2 linked regions of the Homo sapiens genome follow. The protein of the gene in region 1 interacts with the protein of each later gene in a biochemical or structural test. Each region holds a gene or a part of one and is shown on either strand. Other genes may lie near its edges.

Region 1 (9,525 bases):
CCATATCTGAAAGCTTTCTCCATCCTTTTCCTTTCCTTGACTCCCTCAGTAGTCTCCATGGACAGTCATCTCCACTCCCAGCCTCCTCGCTGGCCTCCCACGGTCTCAGGCTAAGCCCAGAGGGTTTAGGGGTTTGCCAGCAGGCACGCAGTGTGTGGGGGCACAGAGCCAAGGACTGCAACCCCCCGAGGAGGGCTCCATCTGTCTGACCTAGCTGCTGTCCTTCCCGCACTGGACCCTCCTCCCCCGCGCAGGGGCTCAGGGGGCTCGGTGGCACTTACGTCTGGGCTCCCGGGGTCCGTCCACGGTCACCTTGATGGCTCGGTGGTAGGTCGCCACTTGGGTGGGGTTGGTGAACACAGTGATGGTCAGGGTGAAACTCTTCCCTGGGGAGAGTGGGGAATAGAGGCAGGTGGTTGGCACCTGGAGCTTCCACAATACCCTGCTCTCCCACCTGTATCTACCCCTGGAAGCCCCTAACTGTCAAGAAGGGGCACTCTGTCCTCTTTGAACATGGGCAGAAGATAGGGCTCTGGGTGAAGTTCAAGCTCTTGGGCTTGGCATTCAAGGCCCCTGGGGGTCTGACGCCAACTTTGTCAACCCCCCGCCCCATGCCGTGACCACCCTGGCTCATGTTCCCCTCTTCTTGGCCTTTCTGCTGTCTCTTCTATTCAGAGACCCACACGATTTTGTGGTGGGGAGCAGGATGGGTATATTCTATTTTCTGAAAGTAATTGGTGATCTTTGTAGAAAAATTCAAGAACATACAAAATATAAATAAAGAAGAAAAGACACCCCCCCCCCACGGTTCCACTAGCTGGAGATAGACACCGTTACCATTTGGTGTTTTCCCTTTCAGCTCTTTTTGTATGGGTTTGTATATTTACACAGTCGCAGTGGTACTAAAATACAGATTTTCATACTGTTTTTTTTTTCATTTAACCTCACATCAGAAGCACTTTCCCACGTCATTAAAACTCCATAAACTTCGTTTTTAATGGCTGCAAAATATTTCAACTCAAGGAAGCCTCCTCATCTTTTATTTATCTACCTCCTTACTCTCGGGTATTTACATCGTTGCTAATTTCTTATTGATGTGTGCAGCTGGAGCTGAAAAAGGACTGATTTGGGAGCTGCAGACATTTCTTCTGTAGACACAACTGTTATTTCCAGAATGTTCTATTTTTAGATAGACATTTGGCTCCAAAGTCTCCATTCAAAATTCCTGAGAGGGGAAAAAACTTTTAAAATACTACTTTTTTTTTTTTTTACCATTTAAAATAAAATGAAAGTGACCTTCTGTTTATAAAAATCTTTGTCTGCATCTCTGCTTATTTCCTTAGAAGAGATTCCAAGAAGCGGTGAGTGATTTCACGGCAGCAGAGGGTTGGGACATATTACGGGCGCGGATCCCTCTTGGAGTGAGATGACTCTCCGGAGAGATTTAGTCGTCACCCTCGCGTGTGAGGCTGCGTCACACCCCAGGGATGTGTCTATCAAGATGGAAGATCTTTTACACGCTCTTGATTTTGTTTGCCTTTTTTTCTATTACTAGTGAGAATGAAACTTTTTATATGATTATTATCCATCATAATCCAACACAAATTACTGCTTCATGTTCTTTTACTTTCCTGTGAAGGTTTTAGTGCCTTTTAAAAATTGCTATATATTAAGCTTGTTAATACTTTCCATGCTGTATTTGTGGCCATCAGTTTCCCCGGGCACAGGCCTGCACATTTTGCCTTCACACGCTGGGTGGTTTTTCATTTTCACTTCTATTTCTCGTTCTTCTATCGTTTTATGTTCAGACGGGTTTCTCCGTGTAGAAAGCAGTTTATGAAGATTTACTTTCGACAGTCTTCTCTCTACTTTCTACAGTGAATTCTCTGATGTGTCTGGGAGTTTGGGGGTCTGGGTAAGAGTCCTCCTCTCACCCTATTCTCTATTACGATCCACAGCCTCATGCTTTATGAGATTGGTGGCCGGGAGCGGGGGAGATTTGCGGATCCCCCAAGCCAGACTTTATCCCCCTATCCCTGCCTCTGGATCCCACGTACAGGCCTGGGAACTCCCTGTGGGTAGGGGCCAATGGTCTCGCACTCTCACCTGTACCCCAGGGCTGGCACAGGATGGTCAAGGAGAGAGGCTGCCCAAGCGCATCCCTCTGGTGTCCCCCTGACACGCCTCCAAAGTGAGCAGGTAGGTTTCAACAGCCCCACGTTGCAGGTGGGAGATGAAGCTCAGGGTGGAGACCAGTATCTCACAGTTCTCTTTGCATGGCCGGGTACTTGTTAGTCAACTGATCAAGTGAAAATTCTAGCCCCAGAGGCAGGAGAATCCGGAACAAAATTAAACCAGCCAGGCTGCCAGGAGCCATGCCACAGGACCCAAGGCCCTCTGAGACACCAGGGGGAATTTAAAGCTCAAGACCCACTGAGTGTCACTCCAGCTGGGAAATGAGGGGCTTCTCTGGAAGCCTTTTCCTAAGCCAGTCGGCTGAGGCAGGGATAGAAATTCTGACTGCACTTGCCCCCGGAGCCCCAGGTCAGAACAGACCTGGTCTCCCACTCTCAGGTCACAGGGGCCACTTTGTATGATTTCTGGAAGCAGAAGTGCAGATGGTCTAGGGAAGTGCCAGGCAGATGCCTCGGGCTCCCTGCCCGACCCCTCCTACTGCCTTTCCTCACTCTGAGGTCATTTCTCTGCTGGACCTCTTTCTCCTCCAACCAGCCCAGCACTCTCCTGGGGTCCCTGAGCCTCTGACCCTGCCAGCATTGTCCAGCACCTTCTTGGTTATGACGGGGAGTTTAGGCAGACAGCCCAGAGCCCTAGGGGCCAGACTGGAGACACGGAGGACTAATGGGTCCCAGTGCCCTGCCACAGGGCCCCGGGCCCACAGCAGCATTTGAAAGCTTACTAAAACCCTCCTTCAGGTCGCCCACCTTCTCAGTCAGGCCTTCCCTGGTCACTTTATCTGAAGTAGGCATTTTTAATTTTAATTAATTTTTTTGAGACAAGGTCTTGCTCTGTCACCCAGGTTGGAGTGCAGTGGCATGATCATAGCTCACTGCAGCCTGGACCTCCCGGGCTCAAGTGATCCTCCTGTCTCAGCCTCCTGAGTAGCTGGGACAACAGGTGAGCGCCACCATGCCCGGCTATTTCTTTTTTTCCCTTCCTTCTTTTCCTTCCCTCCCTTCCTTCCTTCCTTTCCTTTCTTTTCTTTCTTTCCTTTCTTTCTTTTTTTTTTTTTTCAAGCTTTTACTATGTGCCCAGGCTGGTCTTGAACTCCTGGGCTCAAGTGATCCTCCTGCCTTGGCCTCCCAAAGTGTTGGGATTACAGTCGTAAACCACTACACCTGGAAGGCATTTTTAACTTGGCTCCGTAGAGTTGAATGAGCCTGAGAACTAGGGTAGGAAAAAATTACAATTGTATTGTCCCTAACCTCTAACTGAAATTTAGCATCACTCTCAAGTACGAGCGTAGGCAACAAACCACAGAGGTATTATCAGCCGTACCTGTGACCTTGTCACCAACAGACGTCACAGATACTTACATATCACATTACAGTTGCTGCAGATTGCTCTAAATATCTTTTATGCTCATCACAACTTCAAAACCATGGTTGTCATTAGGCCCAATGCTAGATCTTATTTAATACATTGAATAAAGCAGCACATTTACCACAATTTTTAAAGTATTTTGCTATGTTTTAATAGAAATGGTTTCTATTGTAATACTTTGTATTTGATTTTATACCTTAAAAATATCATTGTTCTGAGAAAGGTGTGCGGGCTTCACCAGCTATCAGAGGGGCCCACAGGGCAAAAAAAAAAAAAAAAAAAAAAAAAGCGCTAAGCAGCTCAACCTGAAGTATCACAGGCCCTACCACTCCCTTTCTCTATTCCCTGCACCTGCTGGAATTTTCTCACAATGCATATGCTTTTAATAATCCATCTACTCATTTTGTCTCCTTCTACTAGATTATAACCTCCCCAGGGGCCCAAGTTTTTGTCTTGTTCATGCAGTGTCTCCAGCCCCTAGGACGGCATCCGGCACAGAGTAGGTGCTCAACAACATTTGTTAAATAAATTAAGGGCAGAGATAATGGCTCCCATTTTGCACACAGGTACTAACGTCCCGCTCCTGAGAAGTGAGAAGCCCCCACCCATACCAGGTAGCAAACCACATGCCACCCCTGAGGTCACCAGCACTCCTCGGCCGCTTCCACCAGCTTCCACGCCTGTCACCACCCCTCCCAGGTACAAAGGAGAGGAGTGTGGGGCCTAAGAGGAGGAGTGAGAGGGAGGGGCAGGAGTCCTGGACCTCGGGAGACAGGGAGCCTGGGGAGCAGGGGTGGGAGAAAGCTGTCTCCCTGAGTGCCCCTCAGCTACCCCGGCCCTGCCCAGCTCTCTCTCTGCCTGGCAGTGGCAAACCCATCCATCCCTCTCTCTCAGCCTCTAGATATAACTCTGTGCAGGAGTCCCAGGCAAACCTGCAATCCATCAGGAGCCCAGGAAGTGTAAACCCAGGCTCTCTGAGGGCTGGCCCTGGTTGCAGGGGAGAAGTCTTGGTCTGGGAAATGGGTTTCCTTTAGGGCTCCAGAAACTCCTCCAGGACCCATCATCAACCAGCCGGGGTGGCAGCAGGGCCTCAGGCAAGTCCTTGAGCATTCTCTGCCTGGGTTCCTATGTGTATAAGGTCCCCGCCCCACCCACAGGAGCTGCATGGGTGGGGGGAGGGGACGTGTCTCAGTCTCAGGGGACCTCGGGGTTTTCTCAGCTTCAGCCAAGAAGCCATTCATCTCTCCCCCAACCAGCGGTTCCCCTCAGCCTGCACCGGCACACTGCACCCCGAATCTCTGTCGACACACAGTTGCTTTTTAACCAGTTGATCACAGCTCGAGAGCTCATGTGCTTTTCATTTTCACTTAGGCCAGTGGCCGCCTGCTAGAGGGGCATTTTTGGGATTTGTGGTGGCGTGTGGTCAACATAGTGTTGGGGTGGCACTGCCAGCGTTAGGGGTGGGGTGCGTGTATGTGGTGGGGGATGCCAGCACCCAACGCTGCCCAGGGTGGTGAAGATTCAATTCTTCCTGGGAGGGAAAAACTTGCTTATAAAAGTTCTCTGGCTGGTCGCAGTGGCTCATGCCTGTAATCCCAACACTTTGAGAGGCTGAGGCAGGAGGATCGCTTGAGTCCAGGAGTTCAAGACCAGCCTGAGCAACACAGTGAACAACACCCCCATCTCTACAACAAATAATTTTAAAAAATCAGCTGAGCATGGTGGCGCATGCCTATAGTCCCAGCTATTGAGGTGGGAGGACTGCTTGAGACCAGGAGGTTGAGACTGCAGTGATCGCACCACTGCACCCTGGCCTGGGCGACAGAGCGAGACCTTGTCCCAAAAAAAAGTAAAAGAAAAAAAAATTATCTGAGTCATGAACCTAACTCAGTTTTACATAAAACAAGGGTTTTTTTTGTACTTTTAATATCTACTGAATTTTCCAGAAGGAAAGACAGTTCTTTTTTTTTTTTTAATTTTGTTCAGCGCTTTGCCAACAGGTGTTGACAACTTCAGAAAGTCATGGTATTGGCAGCAAGGCCAGGTTCAGATTGAGCCCTGCCACCCTGCCTGTTCCCTCTGCTGTGGGCTTCTGCATGGAGGGCATTCGTCCACCTCATGGAGTCCTGTGGCCCCAACGTTTACATATTCAAATCAGTGTTTTATTATAAATTACTTTCCCTTTTTTTCTCCATCATAGCTATGGAATAACATAGTTTGCAACTGCATGTAAATAGGTAGGTTTCATTATTTATACATTTCAACGTAGAATAGTAAGGCTTGATATAAAATATGTATTGTAAGAAAGGCTCCTCGTGTCTGGCAGGGCAGGGACCTCAGCCCTAATCACTGCAGGAGACAGCAATGACCTGGTTTTCCTCCCTTCCTTTTCTTGGTTCACACCTTCAGCCCTGTTGTTAAGAGCTCTGTGGTGTTACTGGGTGCGTGTCTTTCATGGAAAGCCATCTTCCTGGAATTCAGACAGAATGTAGAACTAAAAATTGAGGCAACAAGCAGAGGTTTCCATCAGACTTCTTAGTTCTGGCAGAAGTCAAGAGACCCAGGCAAGGGTTCTGGGTCCCAACCCCCAGTCTTAACTCCCAAAGTGTCCCATCTCCTAAAGTGGCCCAGATTGTCACTGTCAACCACTGACTGTTCTCTCAGGTGGGAATTTCCCAGTCAGCAGGATGGGCACTGCAGATGTGTGTCTGCATGCCAGCGGACCCGGCACCCTCCTTCCTCCCTGCCAACCGCCTCCACCTCTCCCACTCAGCAGTTCACACCTTCTGGGTTTCCCCCACCCCCGCCCAAACCACACAGTAATCAGAGAATCAGTGGCTGTCACCGCTCAAAGGGACCTCAAAGTCCTCCTCCAGTCCCAGGCATTTGAAGTAACAAAATCTCTAACATGTATCCAGCTCTCAATATGCGCCAGCTGATACACTTGTGTCAATTTCCCTAACCTTCCCAAAATCTCATGAGGTAGGTACCATTATCATCCCCATCTCACAGATGAGGAAACTGAGGCACAGAGTGGTTAAGTCATTTGCCCAATGTCATCCAGCAAGTCATTAGCAGAGCTGGGACTCAAACGCAGGGTGGCTGATACTAGAATGCAGGCTCTCAAAGACCTCGAGCCTCTGAAGGCTGAACGCCTTAGCCACAGTTCCTCAGACATCGGAACTCCTCCTCAGATCACTTCCTGCCTCCCAGGACCACTGAGACTGGTTATGGACCTCTGAGAGGAGATGGATGAGAGAATGGTTTATAAACTCAGCCTCTTGCATCTCCCAGAGCCACAGTCCCAGCCTCGGCCATTCCTGCTACAAGGACAAGCTCCCAACCAACGCCTTGGAAACCCATTTCCCTCCCTGCAGGCCTGGGGAGGGGGGCTCAAGGTCTGTGGGCATGAAAACCCCTAAAAAAATCATTCTCAGTGTGCAGAATGGCCAGACAAGGTCTCGGTAACTCAGAAAATCGTCGTCTCTTCTCTTTCTCTCGCTTCCCAGGAGAGAGAGTGGGAAGGGAGAATCAAGTTCCTGATGCCTTGCTGGGCTCCCAGATCGACAGCACCTTCTGCCCGCCTCGCAACAGGCAGCAGCTATAGTGCTCCTGACACATACCTGGGCTAGCAGACCTGGCCACTGCCCCGCAGTCAGCAGAGCTCATCAGCCTTGTCTGCCACCGACCAAGGACCAGTGACTGTCCTCTCAGGGTTGGGATTAAGTCGCAAAGGGTTTGAGAGATTGGGGATGACAAAAGGGACTTGGAGACTAATTAGGAGCAGCAATGAAAGCTTAATTCATAAAAGCAAACATTTTCCATCCATCAACCTGCAACCAGTTAAGGGCACCGTTTGAAAGAAATCTGTGTGTGGGGAAGGGAGCCAACAGGAACAGGAAATGTTTGAAAGAATGTAAACTATTTCAGTTTCATAAAAAGTAACAAGTAAACAGTTATTACATGCAAATAATGTCCTGGTTTTAATTAATGCTGAAAAGTCAAAATATGGCTGACATTTGTATGTATACATCGAACGGCTGGAAAGGAAAAAATGGTGCCCAGATGCCTGTTTCAGAGCGGGGCTGGCAGCTCAGAGGGAACTAGAACCTTGAGAAGGTCCTGTTTATTGGTGATGAAAAGCACGGTTCTGCTTCAGCCACTTCAGCCTGCTGTGGAGTTGGGGAGCAGAGGGAACCCAGCTTACTTCTTAACAAAGCTAGAGGCGGGCCTGGTGCTTGGGAAGGGCGACTCCCACTTCAGCCACTTCTCGTAGGCAGGCTGGTCTTAAAGGGCCAGTGGACCCTCAGGCCTCCGTTCCACAGGGGCAGGGTTTCCAGGACTTTCCCATCCAGGAGTTAAGTGATGATGGGTTTCAGGTCCCAGAAGCCTCCCATTCAACAGCCCCCCACCCCCGTCCCGCCTTCCTTCTGCTGCTCAAGGTCGGTCAGACAGGCAGGGTGGCACACCCGCCTTGACTCTGGGGCAGGAGATGGCAGCCTTCGAGCTGTGCTTTCCAACATTCAGCTGCGTTAGCTTCCGTTCTAGACCACCTAGGGCTCAAAGGCGCTGGGAAACTGGGTCTGGGAGACCACAGCTGGAGAGACAGCCTCAGAGTGTGGGGGATATTCTGCCCCCTATGGAGAGAGTGGCTGGGGTGCTTGGGCCCCACAGATCAGGGACTTGTCCTGCAACCGCCTTGCTGAAAGACCTATAAGCTCCCTTTTTGAGCTTGTTAATCCACCATCTCCTGCCAGCATTTTTTGTGAGACCAGGTGTGCTTAACCGGGAAAGAGGGGGTGGCATGAACGGTTTCAGGAGTTGGTAAACCCTAGAAACTGGGAGAAAATTGTCTTTTTCTGGCAAGAGACCATAACTTTCCTCACCTCCTCAAAGCGATCTGTAATATCCTACAGGATTACAAATTGCTGTTTTTAGACAGAGCTGCATCTGGAGACCTGTTTTTCGGGATTCTAAGGCCCCTCTTTCAACCTCCTTCCCTGCTGCCCCTGCCATTGCCAATGCTGAAATGGCGAGGCCTCCCTTCCACTTACCTCGCCCACTGCGGCCCACGAAGCGAAGGTCGTTGAACCTGGCCACCTGGTTCTTCATGACGGCCGAGGCATTGCGCAGCTCAGCGGAGTAGTTCTCGTCATTGCCTGCCATCACAGTCACCACCGTACCATCCGGCACGTCCCCCAATGCCACCACCTGAAGACACGGGGCGGGGGGATGCAGGGGGACAGCTTAGAAAGGAAGAGGGTGACCAGGGAAAGGAGGGGAGGGGCTGGGCTGGGCAGCTCCCCCAGGTCCCAGGCACACTGAGTATTTCTCCAATGCAGGGTGGAGAAGAGGCTTAAAAACAATAAAGACCTTCCCCCAAATATCACGAAAACAAGAAGATGGAATCTCGAGCTTCCACACCAAAATCCTAGATCAACTGCTTACATAAACTGTGTCCCAAGAAATCATCCTTTCAATGAAATCTAAGCCAGAGCTGTGAATCAGCTCAGTCACTATGATGTGGGGTGCAGTTCCCCTGTTGTCTTCGGCTGCAGCGAAAGAGGAATCAACATGCTCCTAGCAACGAAGTCTCCAAATGAGAAAGAGTAACAACAATAATAACAACAGGGCTGCTACCCCCACTCAATTTATGCAAGAGCTGTTTAGGGCATGAAATTTGGCCCTGAAATGTGGACCAGGCCCAGTTTATTGGCCTCTGCAGAGCCTAAATTCGTTATGCAGAGAAAATGCAGAATGCAAAACTCACTGGTGTTTTGAAAAAGGCCACCAGAAAACCCCTTTAAAGTGAGAGTGGGGCTTTTGATAATGGAAGGATGCACCTGCCGGGAATTGCAGGATGGGGGTGGCGATGTCCCCCTAAACACCATCTCCCCCAAATCCCCCACCCCCAGGAGCACGGAGAGGCGGATGCCTTTTGAAAAAGAATCAGACTTTAAACAG
Region 2 (9,525 bases), on another chromosome or scaffold:
GTGGTGGCTCATGCCTGTAATCCAAGCACTTTGGGAGGCCAAGGCAGGAGGACTGTGTGAAGCCAGGGCCTCACAACTTTACCGGTTTGCCCCTTATCCACTCACCAATCAGTGGAATACAATAGCTACAACACTGCTGGCAACCACAGATAGGAAATGCTCACAAGTGCCCCAACGACCAGCCTGGGCAACATAGGGAGACCCTGTCACTACAAAAATAAATTTAAAAATTGGCCAGGTATGGTGACACACGCCTGTAGTCTTAGCTACTCAGGAAGCCAAGGCAGGAGGATGGCTGGAGCCTAGGAGGTCGAGGCTGCAGTGAGCTGTGATTGTGCCACTGCATTTCAGCCTGGGCAACAGAGCAAGACCCTGTTTCTAAAAATAAAAAACTCACTAATGTGACATGCAAGTGACGTACTGATAAAAGCTGAAAGCAACCACATGAAGGCAAGGGTATGACAAAAACAAACTGAAGGCCTAAGACATGTAGCACCAGTACCTTTATTGAAACAAAATCAGCTGGGCACGGTGGCTCACGCCTGTAATCGCAACACTTTGGGAGGCTGAGCAGGGCAGATCAGCTGAGGTCAGGAGTTCAAAACCAGCCTGACCAATATGATGAAACCCCATCTCTACTAAAAATACAAAAATTAGCCAGGCATAGTGGCATGCACCCATAATCCCAGCTACTCGAGAGGCTGAGACAGAAGAATTGCTTGAACCCGGGAGGCAGAGGTTGCAGTGAGCCGAGATCGCACCACTGCACTCCAGCCTCGGCAACGAGTGAAACTCCGTCTCAAAAATAATAAAAAAAAGAAAGAAAGAAAGAAAAAGAAAAAGAAAAAAAAGCAACAACATTTGCAAAGATCTGCTGCCTTAAAGAAAAAGAAAAAAAACAACATTTGCAAAGACCTGCCCCCTCCCCTCCCCTTTCCTCTCCTCTCCTTTCCTTTCCTTTCCTTTTTGAGACAGAGTCTCCTTCTGTCACCCAGGCTGGAGTGCAGTGGCATGATCTTCACTCACTGCAACCTCCGCCACCCAGGTTCAAGCGATTCTCTGGTCTCAGCCTCCCGAGTAGCTGGGATTACAGGCACATACCACCACGCCCAGCTAATTTTTGTATTTTTAGTAGAGACGGGGTTTCGCCACATTGGCCAGGCTGGTCTCGAACCCCCGACCTCAGGTGATCCACCCGCCTCAGCCTCCCAAAGTGCTAGGATTATAGGCGTGAGCCACTGCGCCTGGCCTCTGCTATTTTCTATCTTAGGAGAAGGCAGAGTTTTGCTGCTAAGCAAAACAGACCTTCACATTTCAATTCTGCTGTTTAAAAAATTTGAGAACTTTAGCAATTCTTTGAAATCACACTTCTAATTACTAACATTATGAAAATGAAGCAATTTTTAAAGTGACCCAGGAAGAATAGCCAATTGAGTTTTTTTAAATTCCAATTCTTTTGTGCACTGGACACAAAATGAACATTAACTTTTCCTGCTTCCCCACGAAGCCACTTTGCTTTTTATAATTCTAGATCTCTTGGAGCACTCATCAAAACTTTACTTGGGGGTAAACCTGGGGTGCTGGCATCCAACACAACCTACCCTTCAAATAACTCTTGTTTCCACCAAAATAAGAAAAAGGTGGCACAGAGCTGAGTAAAGAGATGACACATTTCAAAAAAGTGTCTAAGCCTGCAAGAGTTCGTGACAGCTGACTGCCCACAGCACAGCACTGTTGGGAATCTCCAGCAGCTGCCCTCTAGCCAAATGGCAGAGCAGAGCAGAGCAGCTTTCTGAGGGGTCAGGCGAAGAGGGCCAGCCACCTCCAGCTCTTTCCTCCCACCTCGTCCTCATCTCCAACAGTTTCTCTCCAGAAATAACTAAGGAGATCACCCCCAGGGAGAAGACAGAGGCATGACACCTACAAGCTGCCTATTTATAGAAAGTGTTAACACTCCTCAGGAAAAGACACCAGAAATCTCCTTGGAAACGCCCAAGCCTGTACTCCCTTTGGAATTCTAGTCTGCTAATACCAATGACTGAGTAACCACCTTTAAAACAAAACCAAGGTCTTTGAGGTACTTACGGTTTCCCCCCAGGGATTCCTGCCAGGTTTGGAGGAATGGTAGGTACTCTCATGTGAGGGGGAGGATCAAACCCCACCTGGAAACAAAAATAAGGCATTGCAGACTCAGTTTATTGCAGCAGGCACTTTGTGAACATCAATACTGTTCATTAGAAACTCACAGATCCCCAAAGCAACATAAATGGGAACAGTAACATGGCCTAGTGTTTTTCTTTTTAATTACTATGCAAGAGGTAATATAAGCACCCCTGAACGCCACAAGACCCACTTCCTTTTTGGGAGGTAGAGAGGAGATGTGATCTATTTGTGCACTGAGAACCACTTCCCCATGGTAAATACTTCCCTTAGACTTGCAAGCAAGTTCACAGAGCAGTATGTTGTATTAGGATTTCTCAACCTCAGCACTATTGACATTTGGGGCCAAACAGTTCTTTTCTTTGTTAGGGGCCGTCCTGGGCGTTGCAGGATGCTGAATATCATTCCTGGCCCCTACTGTTTATGTGCCAAGAGGAATCCATACCTGCCCCCCCTCCCACCCCCAGTTATGATAATCAAAAGTGTCTCCAGATATTATCAAATGTCCTCAAGGGACAAAATCATCCCCAGTTGCATACATGGGTCTAATTTAATGCTTAAGGATTCATACATGGATTCCCTACTTTGTGCAGCGTTAAGGACAGCATGTAGTCTCTCAGCTGACCACCTTACTTTCAACACTTTGCCCGCCACTGCACAGCCTCTCCTACAAGTGCAATATCAGGAAAAACAAATGAATCTTAATGTCACCGCAAACTAGTGGAGGTAATGCTATGTGAAGAGGGGACAAGAGAGAAAGGTAGAGGACATTTTTCAAACAGCCAAGAGAAATGACGGTGGGACTTTATACCCTTAATGCAATCAACGATCACAGAGCCAATTCTACCCTTCAAATGCAGTTTTGTTTCTTCTTGTTCAAAAATTAGATCATTTGCACAGTGGCAAGAGGCAGGGCAAACAGACGAGAGACAGCCTGCCCCCGTGGTTCAGTCTGTCCAGAATTCTACCTGTTTACAGAGACCACTGCTTATATATAAGTCATGCTATTGGGTTTAAAGTGTAACATAGGCATAGAAAGAGAAAGCGATGGCTTCTCAGACATTTTTTCCTAAGGTTTAATGAGAAAAAAAAAGTTCAAGAAAATGAATGAAAAGGCTTCTGTGAACCACTCGAATCATTTCATCGCCTTCAAATAAAAAAAATCGACTTTGGTGGGAGAAAACCAGATGTCCCCTGAACCACTGAAGGAGCTTCTAAACACTGCCTTTTTCATCCACAAAAACACTAAAACAAAAAACGTTTGGCCCTCACTTAATGAAGCAGCATGCTGATGAAAGCTGACAAGAGGAAGGTGAGTGTGTGGCTGGGAGACTGGGCGTCTTTGTCTCCGAGGTGTGTGGGGCTGGCTGCTCCTGCCCACGCAGCGCAGAGAGGCCTGGCCCCAAACCTGACAGCGCTCAATGGAGCATGCAGCGTTCCTACCCCAACCACAGCCCACCCGACAGCGGCCTACCATGGGGGAGCGCCCGTAGGCCACCACGGCGGCCGCGGCGGCTGCGGCGCTCATCTGGGGCGACATGTTGTGTAAACTGGCGTAGGCAGCGCCTGGGCTGGTCAGCTCGCCGTTCATGCCAGCGTGGGGGACCATCCCAAAAGGAGCAGGATATGGGCCGGGCACTGCCAGGGGTGTCCTCAAGCCAGCTGCTGAAAGGAAACACAAGCCGCACATCATTCAACTGACCCACTCCATCAAACCTGACCAGCAAGTCTGGCCTCATCATTTGTTAGTGTCACTCATGGGGAGAGAGAAAGAGGTAAGGCTTCTAGGGGAGGGGGAAAATCACCTCCAATTTATACACTGGATCCCTCCTTCCCCAGAGCGAATGCATCTCCAGGAAAGAAAAGACTCCAGGGGAAGCACAACCCACACATTTTCTCATTTGTGTAAATGGCAGCACCAGGAAGCCAGGGGAATTAAGAGTATTCCCTACCCAATTTACAGAGGGCAAACCAAGGCACAGGCACCAAGTGTTTACCTGACTTAATCTCAAAAGAAGATTTTCTCGATAAAATCCAAGATTTCTCTTTCAGTCCGAACTTTCCATTCCCTGGTACCAATTCCAAATGAAAATCCAATCCTGGATTTACGTAAACCAAAGCACGGGTTTAGGAGGAATATTCTGTTGCCTATTTTCCTTTGGGCCCAGGTTGTTGCTTTTTTCCTTTCCCACTGGGGAATATCAGGTTGCAAATTATGAGTTTTTTAAGGGCTGGAGTCGCAGAGAAACCCTCCTAATTTCTACTGCAGGAGAGACCACTGATTCCTGAAGCCTCCCCTAGCAGAAAACCAGCAAACTATAGTCTGCAAGGAGCACGGTTGGGCCAGCCAAACCGCTGTTTCAGCCAGTATTAGCAAAGTCAGACGCACAATGCTAGTTAGGTGGGGAGGCTTGTGTTCAAAATAATTATCAGAAACTTTACTGAAGTCCCTAGGATTTGAATTATTTAAAACTAAAAGAAGGCTGGGCAAGGTAGCTCACGCCTGTAATCCCAGCACTTTGGGAGGCCGAGATGGGCAGATCACCTGAGGTCAGGAGTTTGAGACCAGCCTGGCCAACATGGTGAAACCCCGTCTCTACTAAAAATACAAAAATTAGCCAGGCGTGGTGGCAGGCGCCTGTAATCCCAGCTCTTTAGGAGGCTCAGGCAAGAGAATCGCTTGAACCCAGGAGGCAGAGGTTGCAGTGAGCTGAGATCCCGCCATTGCATTCCAGCCTGGGGGGGACAAGAGCAAGACTTTCGTCTCAAAGCCCAGGAGGCAGAGGTTGCAGTGAGCTGAGATCACGCCATTGCATTCCAGCCTGGGGGGACAAGAGCGAGACTTCGTCTCAAGAAAAAAAGAAAAGCTGAATGTAAACAGTTGGAGACTGAACAGAGTGCAGCTGCTGAAACCCCAGGACAAACATCTGTTTCTTATCATGGCTTTTTCAGAGATAGGAAGGAGGGTGGCCCTACGTACATTTCATATTTGTAGGGCAATTGCGTCACAACATTAACAGACAACAAATCAAGCTGGGAATGGGAGAAACCAAACAAAGCACAACAAGAGGCGATGCTGTACCCGCTTGGTTAACGAGGGGGTCTATGGCTGGAGGCTTGCCGAGACCTGGACGGAGGCCTGGAGTGGCGCTGGTGCCCGGCGTTGGCATGTCGCTCCGAGGCGTTGGTGTGCTGGATTTCAGAACAGGCGTGCTGGCTTTTTCATGCTGGTGTCATTAAACAAATTAAATGAGTATTATTTTTAATCCAAGCCATATTACACAATTTATCACAACAGCAGCTGGGACACTGGGCACCTTCTAGCTACTCCCTCAGCCAATTTTCATAAATCCACACAATGTTGACAGCATTAACTTGTGAGCGAGAAATGTTGACCTTTCCTCTTCCTGCCAGAATTAAAACTCGAGCTAGAGACACAGAACATGATCACACTTCTTCCTCCGCAGATTTTATTTTAAAAGTATTTTCCATCAGCCTTGTGGACTTTGGGTCTACGCCAAGTTAGAAAGATGACCACCCAGAGAATATTTCCCAGGCACTCAGAAACACATGTCCTGGCCGCCAAGTCCAAGGAAGACCCCTTTTCTTTTCTTTTTTTTTTTTTTTTTTTGAGATGGAGTCTCACTCTGTCACCCAAGCTGGAGTGCAGTGGCGCAATCTCGGCCTACTACAAGCTCCGCCTCCCGGGTTCACGCCATTCTCCTGCCTCTGCCTCCTGAGTAGCTGGGACTACAGGTGCCCGCCACCATGCCCAGCTAATTTTTTTGTATTTTTAGTGGAGACGGGGTTTCACCATGTTAGCCAGGATGGTCTCGATCTCCTGACCTCGTGATCCACCCGCCTTGGCCTCCCAAAGTGCTGGGATTACAGGCCTGAGCCACCGCGCCAGGCCAGAAGACCCCTTTTCAAGTCTCCTTTTTAGGTAGCCCTGGGATTGAGACAAATGGTGAGAGAGAGTGGGGCCAGTATCTCAGAGACAAAAGCCCCAGGGCTAACCTTACCAATATGCCTAAAAAGAACAACACTTTGGAGTTAAGAGTCACTGCCCACTTGCCTACATAACCAAAGTGGACCCACCAGTGCAGATCAGAGACTGAACACCAGCAAGGGGCCTTTCGGAGACCAGACAGTAACAGGGTTACAGGGCACCTTCTCTGGCCTTTCAACCTTTCATGTGCTTTACAACACAGTCCAAGAACCACTACAGCGTGGCAAAGAGCACGGGCTAAAGAGAGCTCTTTCTGACCTTGGATCATGAGCCACGGCTGTGTAGCCTTGTTAAGTTATTCATCCCTCCCAACCGGTAAAATGGGATAATGCCTACCGGGACCAGGTAAGGATTAACTGAAGGGTTGTTATGAAATGTTATTGTTAAAAGATGATGCAGTCTACAAAGTTTGATTGAATGAGTGACCACATGAGTGGGTTCTGATGCACCAGTTCCTGGCTTCCCCTGGGGCCTCCTTTGTGCATCACTGATCTGACGAGCTCCATAATATCGGGGCATGCTCTATGACATGCCCCGATATTAAGGATCAGTCTACCAGGTAAATGACCAGCCTAAGAAAATGAAGACTTAAGAATCTCGGAAGTTTGAGGCCAGGTGCGGTGGCTCACACCTGTAATCCCAGCACTTTGGGAGGCCAAGGCAGGCAGATTGCCTGAGGTCAGGAGTTCAAGACCAGCATGGCCAACATGAAACCCTGTAATAAGCCAAGATTGCACCACTGCACTCCAGCCTGGGTGACAGAGTGAGACTCCATCTCAAAAAAAAAAAAAAAAAAAAAAAAAAAAAAAAAAAAAAAAGAAGAAGAAGAAGAAGGCAATGAACATGGATGCGTGTACACCCTCTCTAATGTATGGTGGTACCAGGCGTGGTGGTGAGTGCCTGTAATCCCAGCTACTGGGGAGGCTGAGGCAGGAGAATTGTTTGAACCTGGGAGGTGGAGGTTGCAGTGTGCCGAGATCACGCCACTGCACTCCAGCCTGGGCAACAGAGTGAGACTCCGTCTCAGAAAAAAAAAAAAAGAATCTCAGAAGTTTGAACCATTTGTCAACTGGGAAGTTTCAGAGAGCTGTGTGGCAAGAACATATCCCCCAAGTAAGACGGCAATGAGGCTGGGCTTGTAATCCCAACACTTTGGGAGGCTGAGGCGGGTGGATCAAAGAGGTCAGGAGTTCAAGACCAGCCTGACAAACATGGCAAAACCCCATCTCTACTAAAAATACAAAAAAAAAAAAAAAAAAATTAGCTGGGCATGGTCGCGCGCGCCTGTAATCCCAGCTACTCAGGGGGCAGAGGCAGGAGAATCGCTTGAACCCAGGAGGCAGAGGCTGCAGTGAGCTGAGACTGCACCACTGCACTCTAGCCTGGATGATGGAGTGAGACTCCGTCTCAAAAAAAAAAAAAAAAAGAAGAAGAAGAAGAAGAAGGCAATGAACACAGATGCGTGTACACCCTCTAATCATGGCCGAAAAGAGATGACTGAGGGGAAAAAGTAAACCCTGAATGGTGACAAAGAACAGAAGGATGAGTTTCACTATTAAACTCTTAAAAATACAACCCTCAAGCAGCAAAACCCCCACATTTCCAATACTTCAGAGTCCTCCAGTCCACAATGAAAAATACACTGCCAAACAGGCAAGTGTCAGTTTTCTTTACCTACCAAGCTCATTTCTTTGGATTTCAAAGAAGTGGAACTTGCCGAGGAGGCCGTGGAAGCTGGACTGCTAGAAGCATCCTTCTTTAGCAGGCGATTTTTGTCGATTCCATTTTCCCGGGGCGAGTGGGCAGGGCTTGCTCGCGGAGAAGAAGGGTCCTCAACAAGCATAATCAAAAGTTTTCGTGATTTAGCTTGTAACAGACAGACTTTTCCCTTTCCACACTCATTCTCTAAATTTAAGGACAGAGCTGAAAGTCCTTCGGGTTGGGGTTGTACAAGGTGACCAACACCATGTTATAAATGAGCAATATGGTGTCGGCAAACATACCTGCAAACATGCCATAAAAAAAAAACCCCGCAGTCATATCCCTCTTTGTGCCTCATGCTTAAGAACTTTGCCTAGAGGGCACTGGAAGGAAAGGGGAGCCAAACATCCAACTTAGGCATTCAAAATGTCTAGAGAAATATCTTTTTTTAAAGGAAATAAAACTTTATGTCAGTTAGACCATTATTGCTCCATACATGAGCAACCATTAACTTCTTAATGTAAGAAGTTGCAAGAGGTCCCCCCACCGAGGGGCTCTACTTCCTTCATTCACTGTTAGTTTTTTTTCATAACATTATTCAAATCATTCTGAAGACAAACTTTGATGAAAAGAATGGTTACCTCATTAGACACATCCACAACTAAGTTGTCATCGCTTTTGTCACCATCACTGTCCTGGAAAAAAGAAACATTAACGCCATTTACTAAAAGCTAAGAATAGGTTTGAGGCACAGTTAGATTTCTTTCTATAGTTCCTGGTAGCAGACAGACTAAAAAAACTACCTGGGACAGGCCTGCAGGCTCTCTATCAGTTTGCCAGTCCTAGTAATTATTATCATCTTCCCCCTCTTCTCATCTGACCTGGGGCTAGGCAAAGCTTCAGGCAGGAATTCTGTAGCAGTAGCAAACCAACTATCCAATCACAACTTGTTTACAGGTGATGGCAAGTTGCAAATACTTGGCAGATTGTAAGAGCTCAGTAAATGGTTGCAACAGCTGAATTTCTCGAGGGATGAAATCTTTAATTTGAGATCTGCACACCCTTATATCAGAGTTTTTCCATATGATTTCAAGGGAAACCATTTTCCCATGGGATTACTAGTTAATGCAAAAAAAAAAAAAAAAAAGAATCCTGGAAAGCTAGCTGGTGGATCGAATAAGCAAACAAAACCCAATCTTTTTCTCTTAAGTAACAAAAAAGTAAATTAAAAATAAACCTTTTTAGCAATCAGCTTGAAGTATTTTTGGAAAGATAATAGATGGCAATATTTGAAGGGCAATGGCATTCTGCAATAGGGCTCTCATTGTCCCCTCATAAAGCTATCATATTTACTAATCAGAGGAAACTCCAAGGTAGCACTGGGTTTGGAAAAGATTCGGAAAAGCTGTTCAGCCGGGCACAGTGGCTCACGCCTGTAATCCCAGCACTTTGGGAGGCCGAGGCGGGCAGGTGGATCGCTTGAGGCCAGGAGTTCAAGACCAGCCTGGCCAACGTGGTGAAACCCTGTCTCTACTAAAAATACAAAAATTAGCCGGGCGTGGTGGCGCATGCCTGCAGTCACAGCTATTCAGGCAGCTGAGGCACAAGGATCGTTTGAACCCAGCAGGTGCAGGTTGCAGTGAGCTGAGATCGTG

Evidence for each region.
Region 2: the proteins of RUNX3 (region 1) and TLE1 interact in far-western blotting, tested with the Homo sapiens proteins (one study listed by BioGRID and IntAct).

The regions. Positions count from the first base shown.
Region 1 is NC_000001.11:24,918,959-24,928,483, forward strand, and holds part of RUNX3 (runt-related transcription factor 3), read right to left. Parts: intron 8,773-9,525; coding exon 8,616-8,772; intron 459-8,615; exon of another isoform or gene 387-458; coding exon 282-386; intron 1-281. UniProt on the Homo sapiens protein: Forms the heterodimeric complex core-binding factor (CBF) with CBFB.
Region 2 is NC_000009.12:81,608,135-81,617,659, forward strand, and holds part of TLE1 (transducin-like enhancer protein 1), read right to left. Parts: intron 8,566-9,525; coding exon 8,512-8,565; intron 8,001-8,511; coding exon 7,848-8,000; intron 5,388-7,847; coding exon 5,243-5,387; intron 4,260-5,242; coding exon of another isoform or gene 4,158-4,259; intron 3,826-4,157; coding exon 3,635-3,825; intron 2,163-3,634; coding exon 2,086-2,162; intron 1-2,085. UniProt on the Homo sapiens protein: Transcriptional corepressor that binds to a number of transcription factors. Inhibits NF-kappa-B-regulated gene expression. Inhibits the transcriptional activation mediated by FOXA2, and by CTNNB1 and TCF family members in Wnt signaling.